2 separate regions of the Homo sapiens genome follow, and region 2 is linked to region 1. The links come from fine-mapping of genetic effects on plasma protein levels. Region 1 holds a variant in brackets. A gene starts in the other region. All regions are shown on their forward strands.

Region 1 (6,256 bases):
TCCTTGGAAACGGCTGTCGAGCCACGAAGTGGACATTTTAGCCCTAAGACTACAACTCCCAAAATGCCCTGGGGCCTCTTTCTCTGTAGCTGACTGACGCTGCCAACCTCATAGCTTTCCGGGAAATGTAGTTCAGTGATAATCCGCTCCCTCCTCCGCCTCTTCTGCCCACGCGGAGGTCCCAGTGGGAGGAGAGGACTGGGGGCCAATACTGACAGTCCAGGAGTGAGCAACTGGGGGCTCAGACGTTAGGGTCCTGGAAGGTCTCTCTCTCCTGTGTGATAGAAACAGGGAACCAGAAAAACAGGGACCACAACTCACACAAGTCCAGCAACAAGGGGCTGTCAGATCTAAGTAGGGACAGTACTCCCAATCACGAGTAATAAAAATCCTCAGGGCCCGGCGCGGTGGCTCACGCTTGTAATTCCAGCGCTTTGGGAGGCCGAGGCGGGCAGATTGTCTGAGGTCAGGAGTTCGAGGCCAGCCTGGCTAACATGGTGAAACCCCGTCTCTACTAAAAATACAAAAATTAGCTGGGCATGGTGGCGAACGTCTGTAGTCCCAGCTACTTGGGAGGCTGAGGCACCAGAATCCGAGAGGTGGGAGTTTGCAGTGGGCCGAGATCACACTACTGCACTCCAGCCTGGGCCACAGAGCAAGACTCGATCTCTGAAAAAAAATAAATTAATTAAAAAAAAATAAAAGTCTTCAGAAGTACCCCACCTTTTCCTCCACTCTCTTACACACACACACACACACACACACACACAAACCCACACACACATACACAGTGGCTCTGGCTCCAAAAAAGCTACAGAGACACGGGTTAGTGCTGTAGACTTTTAATTCATACCTCCTGCTCTCTCACCCGTGGCAGCTGAGTTGGGAACAGTACTGTAACAATTGTAACTGTAACTCCCTGATAAGCCTACAGGCATGGGGTCTGGATGAGTAGACAGGGGATGTGATCAGAGCTGACTATGTTTAAGGTTTCTTCTTTCACCCTCCAAAAAACAGCAAGGGGCTCCTGAGATCTCGACAACCCCGTCCACCTTGGCCAGACCTCGTGCTCCTGCCTGGATCTGAGGCTGGGTCCAGGGTCTGCCTACCTTTAGATCGTTTTATCTCAGACCTGCCCAAAGCCAGATGTAGTGGTTCTGGGAGTTCAGGGACAGACAGTGGTTAGCAATGAGCACGGTACCTGCCAGTTTGTCACAAGCACAGAGGGTGTGTTTATACCTGCACACTTCCAGAAAACAGATCCCAGACCCTCAGCAGCCCACCTGCAGACAAAGACCAACTTCCTTCATTGTGAGAGGCAACCTGAACTCACACCCAATATATGGAGCTCTTGGCAGTTTATGAGCTTTAAAAAAAAGTGTCCCTGGATCCCTGGAAAGTTCTGCTCCAGAAGCTGTACCATTTTGGCAGTGATCCCTCACCCCACGTTCACATTTTAGCCTGTCTGCTCAAAACAAACAAAAAAAAGTCTTTGAGGGGCTGTGGGGCTTGTTGGACAGAGTCCCGCTCTGCTCACCAACTACCCCAGCTTTTCCAGAGACTGTGAACAGAGCAAGACGCTGGCCAACTAGAGATGGTTTGTTTTCCATCTCAATTTTTCCAGCAATGGTGGAACATTCATTAGATGCTACAATTAGGTTGCACATTCATTAGATTCTTCACTTGGCCCGGTGTGCTGGCTCACATCTATAAACCCAGCATTCTGGGAGGCCAAGGTGGGAGGACTGCTTGAGCCCAGGAGTTGAAGAACAGCCTGGGCAATATCACAAGACCTCGTCTCTACAAAAATTAAAAAAAATTATCCGGGCCAGGCATGGTGGCTCACGCCGGTAATCCCAGCACTGTGGGAGGCCGAGGTGGGCAGATCACGAGGTCAGGAGATCGAGACCATCCTGGTTAACACGATGAAACCCCGTCTCTACTAAAAATACAAAAAAAATTAGCCGGGCGTGGTGGCGGGCGCCTGTAGTCCCAGCTACTCAGGAGGCTGAGGCAGAATGGCATGAACCCGGGAGGCAGAGCTTGCAGTGAGCTGAGATCGCGCCACTGCACTCTGGCCTGGGCTACAGAGCAAGACTCCGTCTCAATAAATAAATAAATAAATAAATAATTAAAAAAAAAATATCCGGGCTGGGCACAGTGGCTCATGCCAGTAATCCCAGCACTTTGGGAGGCCAAGACAGGTGGATGACAAGGTCAGGAGATCGAGACCATCCTGGCCAACATGGTGAAACCCTGTCTCTACTAAAAATACAAAAATTAGCCAGGCATAATGGCCTGTGCCTGTAGTCCCATCTACTCAGGAGGCTGAGACAGGAGAATCGCTTGAACACAGGAGGCGGAAGTTGCAGTGAGCCAAGATCACGCCACTGCACTCCAGCCTGGGCAACAGAGCGAGACCCTGTCTCCAAAAAAAAAAAAAAAAAACTAAAAAGATTCTTCACCTTAGTTATCTGGATTTCCAGAACCCCATCCTGTCCATAAGGGCCCTGCAGGGTTCTTCACAGGCATCAAACCTGGTCCTCTCTAGAACAAGTCTCCCTCTAGAATCACTCCAGAAACACAGAAGGGGACTTGGTGAATGCTTGCTCTGGAGCAATCATATGCTCCTTCAGTCTTTGGAGGACCCAGGGGAGAAGTAACCCCTCTTCTAGAGTAGACCAGAGGGAGAGTTCCCCATTCCTGGGGGCAGCCATCTGGAAGTACTGTAGATATGGGCTGGGAAGAGCAGGTGGGCACTGTGGCTTCTAGAACTGCCTGCCAGCCATCAGGAAAAGATGTTTTGCTAGTTCTAGAATATTCAGACAGTTCCAGAAACGTCCCCCTTCTCTCCAACTCTCCCAACTAGAATCACTCTGGATACGGGCACCCATTTGCTTCAGGAACACCACAAGCTTCTCCAGAAGATGCCAGGCCTCTGAAGCCA[C/T]GTACTGCTGGCTCTAGAAAGATCAGGCTACTTCAGAAAGTCTCCCTGGCTCTCAAGGCTTAGCCAATGTCCAGAGTGGAGACAAGTCTGCATTAATGCCCACCCACTCGGGCAGGAAGGCCGCCTCCGGCTTAAAGATCTTCAGGAACTCAGAGTCTGGCAGGGTGAAGTTGGCCAGGTAGACAGTGTCTCCGCCAGCCAGGTAGGCAGCCCAGAAGCCGAAGGTGCCAATGGTCATAATGGTGTGGTTGCACTGTGTGAGCAGGGCAAAGTCTTTCCACGGTGTAGCCTCCTGTCCATCGCCAGCAAACGTCACATCGCCCTGGGAGGTGTCGATGTTTTCTTTACACCACTCCATGCCGTTGCTGGTGACCACGAAAACGGGGGCTTCGTGCCGTGCCCGGAACCAGTCCATGGCCTGCCGGAGGTAGGCGCTGTCGCCCACCACACCCTTCCAGCGCTGAGGCATAACCTGCAGATAGTCCCCACGGCGCACGTGGACGCCGACAAAGGTGCGCGGGCGGTCCCCTGTGCGGCCCAGGCGGAGCTGACCCAGCACACTCTGCGCCTCTTCCCGAAGGTGGTCGTGCAGGGTGAACTCTCTGCGGATCTGTTCCCGGAGATGGTGGAAGAAAGTCCAAGAGCAGGGGAAGCCAGAGAGCTTCAGGAAAGGATCTCTCAAGTCCGCGTACTCCTCCGACATCCAGTCGTGAAGCTGCAGCTCCCGCCACGGCGTGCGGCTGTCCACTTCTGGGGCCAGCACGGGCAGGGTGATGCGGAATACCGGGGCCAGGGCGGCATGCATGGCAGGCAGGATAAAGGCCCGGCGGCCGTTGAGCTGGGCCAGAGCCAGCAGCGTGGCATACTGTCCCATCTGATTACCAAACCGGCCATTGGGGTAGACAGTCCAGGTGCCGGAGAGGGAAGCAGGGTGCTGGGGACAGGAAGAGGAGGCGTTGGGGCCCATCGCAGTACCCGGCAGGCAGAAGATGGCCACTGGGGGTGTCACCAGGCGGCGGTCTGGACACAGGATCGACAGGCCTAGGCCATGTGGAAAGCTGTCTTGATGGATATGGAGGAAGAAGATTACAGAGAGGACACAGACTAGCAGGAAGGCCAGGCAGAGCTGACGATGGCTCCGGAGCCACATGGCTGCAGGGGAGGAAAGGCGAATTAGCAAATGCTCTGAGGCTGAGGAGGGGAGGCTGAGGAGGGATGTGGGGTAAGGGAGGCGCCTGGGGTGCAGCACTCCTTAGTCCCAGGGAAAGAGGAAGTTAAAGGTTTAGACTCCTGGGGCTGAGGTAGGGAGAGCCTGAGTCCTAGGTTTCAGGGATGAGAGCCTTGGAATTTCGGGGCATGGGGACTGGAAGACAAGTGGTTTTCAAGATAGCCATGGTTTGGCTGGGCACTGTGGCTCACACCTGTAATCCCAGCATATTGGGAGGCTGAGATGGGAGGATCCCTTGAGCCCAGGAGTTCAAGATCAGCCTGGGCAACAGAGCACTCTTACAAAAAAATTTTAAAATTAGCTTGGCATGGGCCAGGCGCGGTGGCTCACACCTGTAACCCCAGCACTTTGGGAGGCCAAGGTGGGTGGATCACCTGAGGTTGGGAGTTCGAGACCAGCCTGACCAACGTGGAGAAACCCTGTCTCTACTTAAAATACAAAATTAGCCGGGCATGGTGGCGCATGCCTGTAATCCCAGCCACTCGGGAGGCTGAGGCAGGAGAATCGCCTGAACCCGGGGGGCGGGAGTTGCGGTGAGCTGAGATCATGCCATTACACTCCAGCCTGGGCAACAAGAGTGAAACTCCGTCTCCAAAAAAAAATAAATAAAATTAGCTTGGCATGGTGGCACATGTCTGTGGTCTCAGCTACACCGGATGCTAAGGCGGGAGGATCCCCGGAGCTCACAATGAGCCGCGATAGCACCGCTGACTGCACTCCAGCTTGCGCGACAGAGAGGGACCCTGTCTTAAAAAAAAAAAAAAAAAAAAAAAAAGAAAGTGGTCCAGGTTCCTACACCTTTCCTGAAGGAATCTCGAGTCTCCCCTCCTGTAAGTTCCGCTGATACTGGACTCTTCCACCAGCCTGTTTCTCAGGAGTACCTGTCTGTGAGGCGCAAAATCCACCACAGAGGTGGTGATGGGAAACGATAGTTCAAGTAAAACAAGAGAGGCTGGAGGGTCAGGAGCGGAAGGAGCATCTTGGTTCCTGGAGGAGTAATGGCTGGGGAGGTGGCGGAGATTCCTAGGGCCTTAGGAAGACCTGGAGAAGAGGTTGGGGGTGCACCTCCTGGTTCTGAAGGAGTTGTTCCTGGGTCCCAGGAACAACTGAGTGGGGCAGTCCCCACTTACCCGAGCTGCTTGCAGGTGGCAGATCCACAGTCCGCTTTTCGTGGCCGGAGCGCACCCTCCGCAAAGGCAGGCCACATCCGGCCGCCCCTGGAACGCCAGGCGTCCGGCTATCCGGCCCGGCAGCCCTCCCCTCCGCGCAGCCTGTCCGGACTGGCAGCGAGGGCTTGGGGAGGAGAGGAAGGAGAGGGCGCGGCCGGGAGTCTCGCAGCGTCCGCCCTCCCGGGCCGGGCGGATGGCTGGAAGGTGGAGCCCCGCCCGTCACTTGGCGCCGAGCCCCAGCGCCAGGGGCTAAGGCGATGGCCCCTGGGCCCACCGCTCCCCAGATCGGGGATGCAGGGGACCGCGCCCTGCCCCTCCGCCCCGTCATTGACCTGCGCGAAGGCTTCACCCAGGGCAGGCTACCTGGCTTCTGAGCAGCCGCAGCATCATTGCGTGGACCAGGAGACGGAGCGCCCAGTTGCAATGCTGGAGCCGGGAGGTCCAATCCGCCGCCCTCTCTCTTCCGGTGCCAGGGCTTAGAGTCGGCCCCCGACACCTGGGTGCTTCGAGCCTGGCCACGCCCCAGCGGCTGGGCAGGGCCCCCGCACCTGGTCCCGGCGAGTGGAGCGATCGTCCGCCCTCTGCCGCGTCCTCCTGGGGGATGGAGAACCTGTTTGCCAGGCTGCCGCCGGAGCGCGCGAGGGCCTCCAGCCTGCAGGTGCTCCCGCGCCCACCAGGGTCTCCGATCTCCCACACCCCCCGCCTCACCGTCCACACTCAAATTCCAGAATCCCAGCCCCTAGTCACTCCTTTTGGGGAATTCTAGGGTCCCGTGCCAAACTGCTACTTTCCAGACCTGCACTGCACGAAGGCAACCATTCCAAGGCTGGAGACCGGAGTGGAACAGGGTCTGTTTCCCACGCCGTCAGCGGGGGCCGTGGCTGCCGGCGCCAGAGACAAAGGCCTCTGCCC
Region 2 (11,108 bases), not on the chromosome of region 1:
ATAAGACTCTGCATTGCTGGGTAAATTCCATTCTGACCAAAGTGGGTAAAAGTTTGTTATGCTTTACTAAGTACACTCTGAGCTTCTAACTGCCTGAACCCTATGTGGGTGTTGATTTCAGTTTCTGACCTCACAGGACTCCTCTGGGCCAAATGGCCTTTGTCAAGCAGTTTCTATAAAAGGGACTTCTTTCAGAGCCTTGTTGAATTAACTGGGGCTTCCTTTAAATAAGGGCTTGTTTTTAGAAGCTTTCTTTTTCCAACAAGGAAAAGAACACAATGGATTCCAAGTAATCTCCAGTCCTCATCACAGCTTGTCACAAACACCTGGCACGTCTTTTCTGACTAGAGTGAAAACACACACACACACACACACACACACACACACACACACACACACACACACTAGCTTCAGGGACACAGCCTCAGCCTGATGCTCCAAAAGCATTTACTGCAAACTTCCTCTCACTACAGAGTTATTTCCTGGAAGAACAACAAAAACTGTTTTTGAATTGACAATGTGGCTTTAGTTGCTGCTGAAGTTAAGTGAAAGTACCAACCATTGTTACTATTAACCTAAACAAAATCTTAAAAGAATTACTTTCTTTTTCTTTTCTTTTTTTTGGACAACAACAAGAACAAGATATTTTTCCTTTCTTTGCTGATCAGTATGAAGAATGATTTATCAGTAAAGTCAATTTCAGGCAAAGGCAGAACTTAGGAATTGGGTTAAAGTGTTGCTTATTTCAACCAAAAGAAAACTTTCTAATTTGTTTGGGCAGCATTTACTTGGTTCTTCGAAAAGCAATTGTGACAAACAGTACAGAGAGTTAAGGCACTTATTGGCATATAAAAAGATGCCAGCATTTGGAGTTGCACATAACAAAGAAATATCTTAAATACTTTTCAAAATATTCTAGGAGCCAAGACACAAGGGCATGCTTCAGGAGAACACAGGAATGTAATTTGGGAGGAAAATTGCAACTACCCCTTCCCTTTAAAATCACTGAGCAAAACAAAGCAGCATTCTACTTCACATACTGACTTTACATAGTTTATATATAATAGTTTGACTTTAAGAAGCAAAGATGGGACTCTCACTGTTTATCTTTTATTTATTCTTTTTTATTTTTTGAGACAAAGTCTCACTCTGTCACCCAGGCTGGAGTGCAATGGCATGATCTCAGCTCACTGCAACCTCTGCCTCCTGGGTTCAAGCAATTCTTGTGCCTCAGCCTCCCAAGTAGCTGGGACTACAGGCGCGTGCTACCACATCTGGTTAATCTTTTTGTATTTTTAGTAGACATGGGGTTTCACTATGTTGGCCAGGGTGGTCTTGAACTCCTGGCCTCAGGCGATCTGCCTGCCTCGACCTCCCAAAGTGCTGGGATTACAGGCATGAGCCACTGTGCCGGGCCTCTCACTATTTTGAAAAATAATTGCATGGTCACCCATGTAACCCACCCCAGTCTGGCAAGTTTAATTGGGAGAGGTCTCCGTTACTTAGAAGAGTACCAATTTGACACTTTAATTCAGATAGCCCTGACTTCATTTTTGGGGAGCAACTTAGAGAGGTTCATTCTTTCCCCCCTGACTCATCCTCTGTTGATCCAGTCCCGAATTTCACCAGCTTTTTTATGCATAATTTGCATAACAATTTCACCCAAATGGATCTCAACTGAGCATCATTTCTGCAAGAAGACTATGGAGTTTGTCTATAGAGAAAATTAAATCAAATTCATAGACATTTTTAAGAGTCTGTCAAATGTTTCCACATGTATTTACATGTGGTCTAAAACCCTAAGGGCATTGTAAGAAGCCACACAAAAGACCCAAATGAATGTTCTAAGGGGCATAAAGCAGTTTGTTGTCTGAGCCACCTGTTAAGGGAAATGAGTGGAACTTGGAGAGTCAGGCTTTCCTGTCCCTCTTGATCATGACGGTCACTTGGAGAACAGTGAGTCCAACCCGCTGGGGTGGCCACAGGGGATGGACCTTTACTAACATAAAAGAAAAATTTTTTAAAAATTCTTTGAATGGTTTCCAAATGAGCACTCCCTCCAAAGTGGAACTTAATACCACAACAGATATTCACCCTGTGCAAATACAGGTTGAGCACCCCAATCCGAAAATGTGAAATCTGAAATGCTCCCAAATTTGAAACTTTTTGAACACTTTGTGATGCCACAGGTGAAAAATCCACACCTGACCTCATGTGATGGGTCATATATATCATATGAAATATTGTTTAAAATTACCTTCAGGCTATGTGTATAAGGTATGCATGAAACATAAATGAATTCCATATTTAGACCTGGGTCTTATCCCCAAGATATTTCATTATGTATATGAAAATATCCCAAAATTCAGAAAACCTGAAATCTGAACACTTCTTGTCCCTAGCATTTTGGATAAGGGATACTCAACCTGTACATGCAGTATGAATATATATTCCTATTTTTTTCTTTTTTAGGCAAACGCTAACATACAATATACACTTCTGTACCTTCTTTTTATCACTTACTAATTAGTATGTCTTAGAGAGCTTTTAAAAACCAGTATATAGACTTGGAGAGTTTCTTCAACTAATTTCACAGCTGTTATATTTTACTGTATAGCTACATCAAAATTTATTTAACCATTTCCCCATTGATTGACACAGGAATTGGTCCTAATCTTCTGCCATTACATATAATGCTACAATGAATAACCATGACATTTTGTACTGTGGGAGTATATCTGCAGGATAAATTCCCAAGAATGCAATTGTGAGTCAAGGATACGTGTGTTCATGAATTTGACAGATATTCCCAAGTTGCCCTCCATCAGAATTACATCAACATGCCTATATAGAGCATGCCTATTTCCCCACAACCTTGCCAAGACAGTGTGTTATAAAACTCCCAGACTTCTGCCAAACTGATAGTGAGTATGGTAGTGAGGAAGAGTTTTTTTATTTTTATTTTTATTTTTGAGAGGGAGTCTAGCTCTGTCACCCAGGCTGGAGTGCAGTGGCGCGATCTCGGCTCCACTGCAACTTCCACCTCCCGGGTTCAGGCGATTCTCTTACCTCAGCCTTCTGAGTAGCTGGGATTACAGGCACGTGCCACCACGCCCGGCTAATTTTTGTATTTTTGGTAGAGACGGGGTTTCACCACATTGGTCAGGCTGGTCTCGAACTCCTGGCCTCAAGTGATATGCCCGCCTCGGCCTCCCAAAGTGCTGGGATTACGGGTGTGAGCCACTGAGCTTGGCTGTTAAAAAATAAATTACCTTGAGTTGACCTGGCGCCTTGAGTTTAACTCTATCATTATCAATTCAGTTTGTTTTGGGTTTGGAGGTTAACCCTCCAATGTGTAGAACTTCATATTTGCATTATTTTTGGCCTATAACTTTCGAGTGACTGAGACTTCAAGATGTGCATTATGGCTTAAGTCGTCTTATACATCTGCAACAGCAGATGTATACACAACCCACTCAAAATTTGTGTGTGCAGTAATATTTCATTTGGGACATATTGTTTGTAAACTGATGCTATTTAAATTACTTGCAGCATAATCTCAACACATGTAAAAATACTTTTACACTTGTAGGATATTGTTTTATAATACAAATTCTTGTGTACAAACTCCATTAACATTTTATTTATGTACAGATCATTATTACCAGTTTTTGTTTCCCAGTTGAGAGTGGGGAGGGCAGATGGGCTCAGAATCTTTGCATGTGCCAGCATCCTGCAGTCTCAAACTTTTCCATTCAAAGCAAATACCTGTGCCAATATCTGTGTCACTTCCAACAAGAATGAATGCTGCCTAAGTGCTCTCCACACATTTGCAAAATGACATCAGGCCCCCCAGGTCTTCCAAGAACCAAAGGAAAAGTTCCACAAAAGTGAATCCTGCCATACAAACAGTCCCAGCACTTTCCAGCTCCTTTTTCATTCCAGATTCAAAGGTCTGGCACCAGGATGAGCTGAAGTGTAAGGCATCCACCACTCTCCCCCTGCTCCTACTCCCATCCCACCCAAAGCCTTGTCTAGAGAAAGCTCCTCCCAGCCTCAGGCCCAGGAATGGGAATCTCTGTGGGTCACACATCAGTAGGGAGGTCTTTCCCGATCCTTTTCTATGCTACTCCAGGAGTCAAAGCGTCTCCTGGGACTTTTCAGGGCGCTTCAGAAGAGCCCTGGGCCTAAACCAGCTCAACCAAGCTGCAGGGACCCAGCCTCCTGAGAAAAGTGAATGTGAGCCCGGTGCATTCAGAGGAGAATGAAGCCTTCACCCAGAACACACTCTGGGAAGATGTCCCAGGCCCAGGGGGAGGGTTTGTACTACCAGACCTAAGTCACCTAAACTGACACCAAGTCTCATCCATCCCAACCATTCCATTCCGGGTCAGAGGGGTCATCGATTTAACCAGCAAGGCTGCCCATCCAACGGTTGCTCCCTCTGCTCCCTGGAAGGGCCTCCTCGTGGGCGTTCTGTACCTACAGGTCTTGTTCCGTTCTGGGAACTGCCAGTGGTGGCAAGAGGTGGAGCAACGGGTGCCAGGGCAGGGAGAGGTGAGTCTGGGAGGGAAGCAGAGGCAAGATCCATGGGGCTTTAGAGACTTTGCCAAAGCAGTGCGACTGCTCCCAGGTTGTTGTCAGCCGTCAAGAGTGAGTGCACCTCCCTGGGCAGACTTCTGCTGCCCCAGTGCCCAGGAATAGGCAGGGGTTTGCCGCAAAATGAATGACACCTGGCAGACAATAAGCTGAAGCTTTCATTAGCAGCTTAAGCTGAGGACTATCTATGCAACCGATACTCCCTGTGTGCTCCCCGGGACTGCTTAATGTGAGCCCTTGTGGAGCGATTGGCACCAAGAAAGCAAGGACTAAGTCAGAAGTTCAAGTCCCAGCCTTGCCACAGCCTCAGGGTGCCCTCGAGCACAGCAAGCCTCAGTTTTCCCATCTGTACAATGAGAGAGGTACACAAGGTAGACTCGAAGGCTCTTTGTTGCCAGGGCCCTGTGTTCCTTTGAGTGTATGTGCTTCTCAGGCCCACAGAGGTCCTTTGTGTTTCGTATGTGAACTGCTCTCTAGGAAACCCATGTAACTGTCTGTGTCCTGGGGCACATACATGAGGACTCATGTGGGCCGTATTGTGTGTTTGTGCCGGGGGGAGGGGAGACCCCAGAACAATGTCCCCCACCCCACCCCCCTCCTCAATAGGCGGAAGCCACTGGCTTCCTCCCTTTCCTGCCTCCTGCCTCCTTTGTGCCAGCAAGACTGAGTACTGGAGAGAGACAGGGGATGGGAAAAATCAGTCCAGCTGTCCCCAGGTCTGCCCTTACCATAACCTTCCCCCCACCTCAAGTGACTCCTCCCAGGCCACACCCATCCCCAGCCTTGTGGGGGCCAGATTGGGGGGCCTAGAGGCTCAAAGGCAGAATGAGTCCTCCCACCCCCTACCCTGCCACCCCTCCCACCCAAGCCACCTCATTTCCTCTTCCTCCCCAGCACCGACCCACACTGACCAACACAGGCTGAGCAGTCAGGCCCACAGCATCTGACCCCAGGCCCAGCTCGTCCTGGCTGGCCTGGGTCGGCCTCTGGAGTATGGTCTGGCGGGTGCCCCCTTTCTTGCTCCCCATCCTCTTCTTGGCTTCTCATGTGGGTAAGTCTCCCCTGAGTCCCTCACCCCATTTCTAGGCCCCGAGGCCCTGATTTCTACCCAAGAAACCCTATTTTATCATAGAGACAGAAAGTAGGATGATGGTTGCCATGGGCTGCAGGGAGGAAGAAATGGGGAGTTTTGTTTAAAAGGTACAGCGTTTTTACAAGATTTTTACTTGGTTTTACAAGATTAAAAGAGTTATAAACATGGGGCCGGGTGCGGTGGTTCATACCTGTAATCCCAGCACTTTGGATGGCTGAGATGGGAGGATCAATTGAGGCCAGGAGTTCAAGACCAGACTGGTCAACATAGTGAGACCCCGTCTCCATTGTGTTTAGACTTTCGTCTTTTTCAAAAAAAAAAAAAAAGGATGGATGGTGGTGATGGTGGGACAACACTAGGAATGTATTTAATCACATTGGGTTATATGCTGCTTACAAATGGTTAAGATGGCAAAATTTGCCGGGTGTGGTGGCTCACGCCTGTAATCCCGGCACTTTGGGAGGCCGAGCGGGTGGATCACAGGGTCAGGAGATCGAGACCAGCCTGGCAAACATGGTGAAACCCCATCTCTACTAAAAATACAAAAATTAGCCGGGCGTGGTGGCAGGAGCCTGTAATCCCAGCTACTTGGGAGGCTGAGGCAAGAGAATCGCTTGAATCTGGGAGGCAGAGGTTGCAGTGAGCTGAGATCGCGCCACTGCACTCCAGCCTGGGCGACAGAGCAAGACTCATCTAAAAAGAAAAAAAGATGGTAAAATTTATTTTATATGCATTTCACCACAACAAAAAATTTTGGAAAACAAGCCCTATCATCACTGCCATCACTTTGATCCACTAGAAAGTGAGATCAAGGCCAGGAAAACACAGGCAAGTGCTAGAAATCACTGCAACCTGGGATCAGGGGAGGAGTGAGGAGTAGCCGCTGACTGTGTTGGATCTGAGGATCTGTGGAGGGCCATTTTCAGGGGGTGTTCATAGGGTAATTGTGTTGGATTCACTCAGTTGTTCACTGGACAAACATTTATTGAGCACCAACAATATTCCAGGAGTTGTGCTAAGTGCTGGGCCATTAGTTGAGAGGCTGGCAACACCTAGTCTGTACAATGAGATTAAATGATGCCAGCCTCCTATGGTTGTTATGGGGTTTAAATGAGAAAATGATGCAGAGCAGTTGGCACAGTGCACTGTGCTTGGTAAGGATTTCTGAGTAGGTGGCAGCTGATTCCTTCAGTCTGCTGGTCAGCCGATTAGAACACAGAGGCTGCCTTTGAGTGGTTCATGGTCTAGTGCAGAACACAGGACAGGGGAAGAGGGCTAAACAGGGACAGACACAGGAGCTCTAGAGGAGCACTGAGGAGGAGTTCAGCTTACACTGCCTCAGGTAGGAGACAAAAAGGGAATCAAGGAAGATTTCACTAAGAGGGGTGGTCTTCATTCCAGGCAGCCAGAACATAAAAAATGCAAGTCTCAGAGGCATGGAGGTGCATGGGAGAGAAGGTGCCTGTTAGGAACACAACAGGAGGGATAGCGTGGGAGCATCACGGGGCTTAGGAGCACGAACATTATCCTGAGGGCAATAGGGAGCCATGGGAGGTCACAGGCAAGAAAGTCACAAGGTCAGGTTTGGTCTTAGATCACCGTGGAGGATGAGTTGCAGAAGGAGGGGCTGTGGCTGTTGGGATGGTCTAGGTGAGTAAGGATGAGGGCTGAACAAAGGCAGGCTGGGGGGGTGGGGATGAAGTCAAGAAGCGTTCAGGAAACAATGTGCAGAATTCTATGACTGATGAGGCAGGCAGCACAGTGCTCAGAGATGTGGACTTTAGAATCAGACAACCTGGCCCTGCCACTCACTAATTGTATGACCTTGGGCAAGTTACTTAACTTCTCTGAGCCTCCCTTTCCTGGCTATAAAACAGGGATAATAACATCCACCTCCCAGGATAGCTGGGATGGTAAAATGAAACAATATCAGTAAAGTGCCTGGTGCATAACTGGCAGCCAATAAACATTCATTATTATGACAATGGGAGTAGAGATGACTCCATAGTTTGTGTCTCAAGTGGCGGGTGCTGTCCAGTGAGTCAGGGAGCACTGGAGAGGAGCAGATTTGGGAAAAGCTGATGGAAATGCAGGTCCAAGCTGAAAGACCGTTCCCGAGTTACTGACTCAGAGGTGATGGTTAAAACTGGGGGAGTGGGCGAGCTTGCTCAAAGAAGCCAGTAGAATAATTACCATGATCCTCCTCTGTAACTGGAAAGAATATCCACTTCACTGGTTGTGAGGATCCAGTGGAAAATGGGGGTTGGTATGTGGTGGGCGGTCAGTAAATGCCAGCTTCGTTTGCTCATGGTAGCCTTTCAAACACTGATAAGCTAGGTGGCATTTAAACTAATGAACTGCTTGACAGTCAGCTACAAGAGACAGAGAAGGAAGGGCTTGGCTGGTGGAGGGGTTCTGGGTCCTGGAGCTAAGGCAGGCTCGCAGGCTCTCCACCGTCCAGACTGGACTCTGACTCCACCTGATCTCTCCTGCCTCAGCCTCACATTTTGTACTCCAGTCACACAAACCTGGAGAGCCCCCTCCACCTGCCACAATATTGCCACTGCAGGCCTCTGTCCAGGCTGTTCCCTCTGTCTAGGATGCCCTCTCCCTGCCCCTGATTTCTCTCCCTCCCCATTGTCCTCACGCCAATGTGCCCTGCTCCAACTGTACCTCCCAGGAAGCATCTCTTCATCTCCCTGAGCTCCCCCAGGCTGGAGCAGGGGTCCCTTCTCTGTGCTCAAAAGCACAGCGCCCTACATTTGGCAGCTGTGTTCATGCCTGTTCCTCCAACTAGGGCGTGAGCTCTTTGGAAGGCAAACAAAGACCAAGACCTACCTCGTGTCTGTGTCTGTCTGGGCTCCAGGCCTTGCCCTGGGGCTGCCCTCCCTGGCTCTGGGCCCAGCCCCAAGCTTAGCTCCATTTCTTTTTGTTTTTCTTTTTCTGGAGAATGGGGTCTTGCTATGTTGCCCTGGCTGATCTCAAACTCCTGTGCTCAAAGGATCCTCCCACCTCTGCCTCCTTAAGTGCTGGGATTCCAGGCGTGAGCCACCGCACCCAGCCCTAGCTCCATTTCTGTGCCACAACCTTCTGGCTGCAAAACTCAGCCTCTCCCACCTCAAATCCCAGCCCACCAGACATTTCTAGATCTCCATAGTGACAGAGAGGGGGACCCATGGGACACTTCTGTTCTGGCTGGCTCTCCTGGCCTGCACTCTCGTGGTGGAGGCAGGGAGAAGTGGCTCACAGCAACCTTTGCAGGGCAGTTTTAGAGACGAGTGGGGAAACAGGACTGATAGAAATAAAGTGAGGAAACGGAGACAGGGAGCATAGATCATTCTTTCCGAAAGCTGGGGCGAAAGGGAAGCCATCTGGCAGGAGAAGGGAGGGGACACGGCCAGAGAAGGATTCGTGGTTTTGTTTTTGTTCTTTTAGAATGAAGAGACTTGAGGGAAAGAGGCCAGTGCGCATGGAAGGGGAAAGGAGGGGGATGGGAATGCCTGATAAAGTGAGGCCTGTGGGGTCTGAAGAACCGGGCAGGGGAAGGAAGAGGGGTGAAGGTTGGAGACCCTCTTCTGAGTGGACGGTGGATCAGTAAGACCAGAGGGCTGGGGCTGGGGGCTCTGGGGCACTAGGGTTGGCTGGGACTACAATAGAGTCACTGGTGTCCTGGCCCCAGGCGCGGCGGTGGACCTGACGCTGCTGGCCAACCTGCGGCTCACGGACCCCCAGCGCTTCTTCCTGACTTGCGTGTCTGGGGAGGCCGGGGCGGGGAGGGGCTCGGACGCCTGGGGCCCGCCCCTGCTGCTGGAGAAGGACGACCGTATCGTGCGCACCCCGCCCGGGCCACCCCTGCGCCTGGCGCGCAACGGTTCGCACCAGGTCACGCTTCGCGGCTTCTCCAAGCCCTCGGACCTCGTGGGCGTCTTCTCCTGCGTGGGCGGTGCTGGGGCGCGGCGCACGCGCGTCATCTACGTGCACAACAGCCCTGGAGGTGAGTTAGGCAGGCGGGGGGATGGCGCGGGGAAAACCAGGCCGCTGACCCACCTTCCACCCCGCAGCCCACCTGCTTCCAGACAAGGTCACACACACTGTGAACAAAGGTGACACCGCTGTACTTTCTGCACGTGTGCACAAGGAGAAGCAGACAGACGTGATCTGGAAGAGCAACGGTAAAGAGGGGCATTTGAACTGGTGGGGAGGGTAGACCCATCGTTCTGAGGCCCCAACACTTTCATGACCCATGGGACCCTCAGCTTTGGCCCCTGACACACCCGACCTCCAGGGCCTCTCCTCTGTAGTGGACCAGGTCCCATGGGATGTGCCTGCACCCATCTTATCTGTAGTTCTGAGCTGCCTTCCTTCTGTACACAGAGGGCCAGGAGCCTGTGGTCAGCTGCCCCTTCCCTCTTAGCCCCAAATGAGCACGATGTTAAACCCTCATCTCTCCCCTGGGAGTTAGCAGGTGCTGTCACATAGCCCACCTGGCAGACCGCATCAGTCCCCCTGAGGAGGAAGAGAACTGGTAACATCATGCCCAACACAGGCAGGGCAGAGTCTAGCCTCTCCCAAAGATCTGTCCAGCCCAGATCCTTGATGCCCAAGACAGCCTCATGCTGAGGCCTGGGTAGACCCGTGGGATCTCAGTCCCAGGCCTGTCCTCCACCCTGACCCTTTGGCCACCCCATAGAAGGAAGCTGTTTTCCTATGTGGCCCCAAGATTCCTGCCTCAGTCCTCAGATTCACAACCCCTTGGCTGACTCTTGCATACCTGGGCTCCTGAGGGAGGAAGACCCTTCCCTTTGGCCAAGGGGGCTGCCTCCTGAGCTCTGGACCCCGTGAATTGACAGGAAATGTGAAGAGGCACAGGCAGACCTGGGTCTCTAGGCTCTCTGTTCAGCCCTGAGCAAAGAGGCAAGAAGCGGGTGGGGCAGCGACTGGAGCACTCTTCTAAGAGGGAGAGGCTCAGGGGAGAGACCCTAGAGTAGATGGCACTTGAATTGTGCTCAGAGGAGAAGTGGGAAGACAAAGAAGGCAGAAAAGGAAGGAAGGGCCTTCCAGGAGGAGGGACTGAGAAGAGCAGTAGGGTCTGAAACACAAGGGTGTTTCTAGAAGAGAAACAATCCATTCAGGAATTCAGGAATGTTAGGAGTCAAGAAGGGTGTGAAGACGAATGGGGCTGGATGGCTTGGCCACGGCCAAGTTGGTGAAAATGATGTCTAAGGAGCTGGATTTTTGTCCTGAGGTCACTGGAGAACCAGGAGAGTTTCAGCAGAGGAGTTAGAGAGGAGTCTGTTGTAAAAAATCACCCTGGCTGCTGGGTGGAGGAGGGACAAGAAAGGGTGACACTGGAGGCAGAGGAGCCTTGTGAGGCCCCTGGAGGCTAGGACCAGGGCAGTGGCAGTGGGTGTGGGGA

Which allele goes with the higher level. Alleles are on the strand shown, and positions count from the first base shown. The strength of an association depends on the size of the effect and on how common the allele is.
For the plasma level of the protein whose gene starts at base 5,503 in region 2, allele T in region 1 goes with a lower level than allele C (weak association).

What was found. A credible set is the group of variants that fine-mapping cannot tell apart. PIP is the chance, under the fine-mapping model, that this variant and not a neighbour inherited with it causes the effect. The UK Biobank Pharma Proteomics Project read protein levels with antibody pairs (Olink). The fine-mapping took linkage between variants from a reference panel, not from the people measured, so its PIPs are less certain.
Region 2: TIE1 starts here. The variant in region 1 is the best candidate, but not a certain one, in a credible set for the plasma level of the TIE1 protein (UK Biobank, PIP 0.62).

The regions. Positions count from the first base shown.
Region 1 is chr19:48,747,185-48,753,440 of GRCh38, forward strand. FUT1 (fucosyltransferase 1 (H blood group)) reads right to left here and starts at 5,457. Exons shown (of 2, transcript NM_001384359.1): 1 at 5,306-5,457; 2 at 827-4,099. The coding sequence starts at 4,097. The coding sequence ends at 3,000. RefSeq lists enhancers at 1-5, 6-791, 3,814-4,453, 5,659-6,245 and a silencer at 5,494-5,543. The variant C/T (reference allele first, on the strand shown) is at 2,948.
Region 2 is chr1:43,295,480-43,306,587 of GRCh38, forward strand. TIE1 (tyrosine kinase with immunoglobulin like and EGF like domains 1) reads left to right here and starts at 5,503. Exons shown (of 23, transcript NM_005424.5): 1 at 5,503-5,650; 2 at 9,372-9,686; 3 at 9,754-9,864. The coding sequence starts at 5,593. RefSeq lists a silencer at 5,343-5,442 and an enhancer at 5,473-5,562.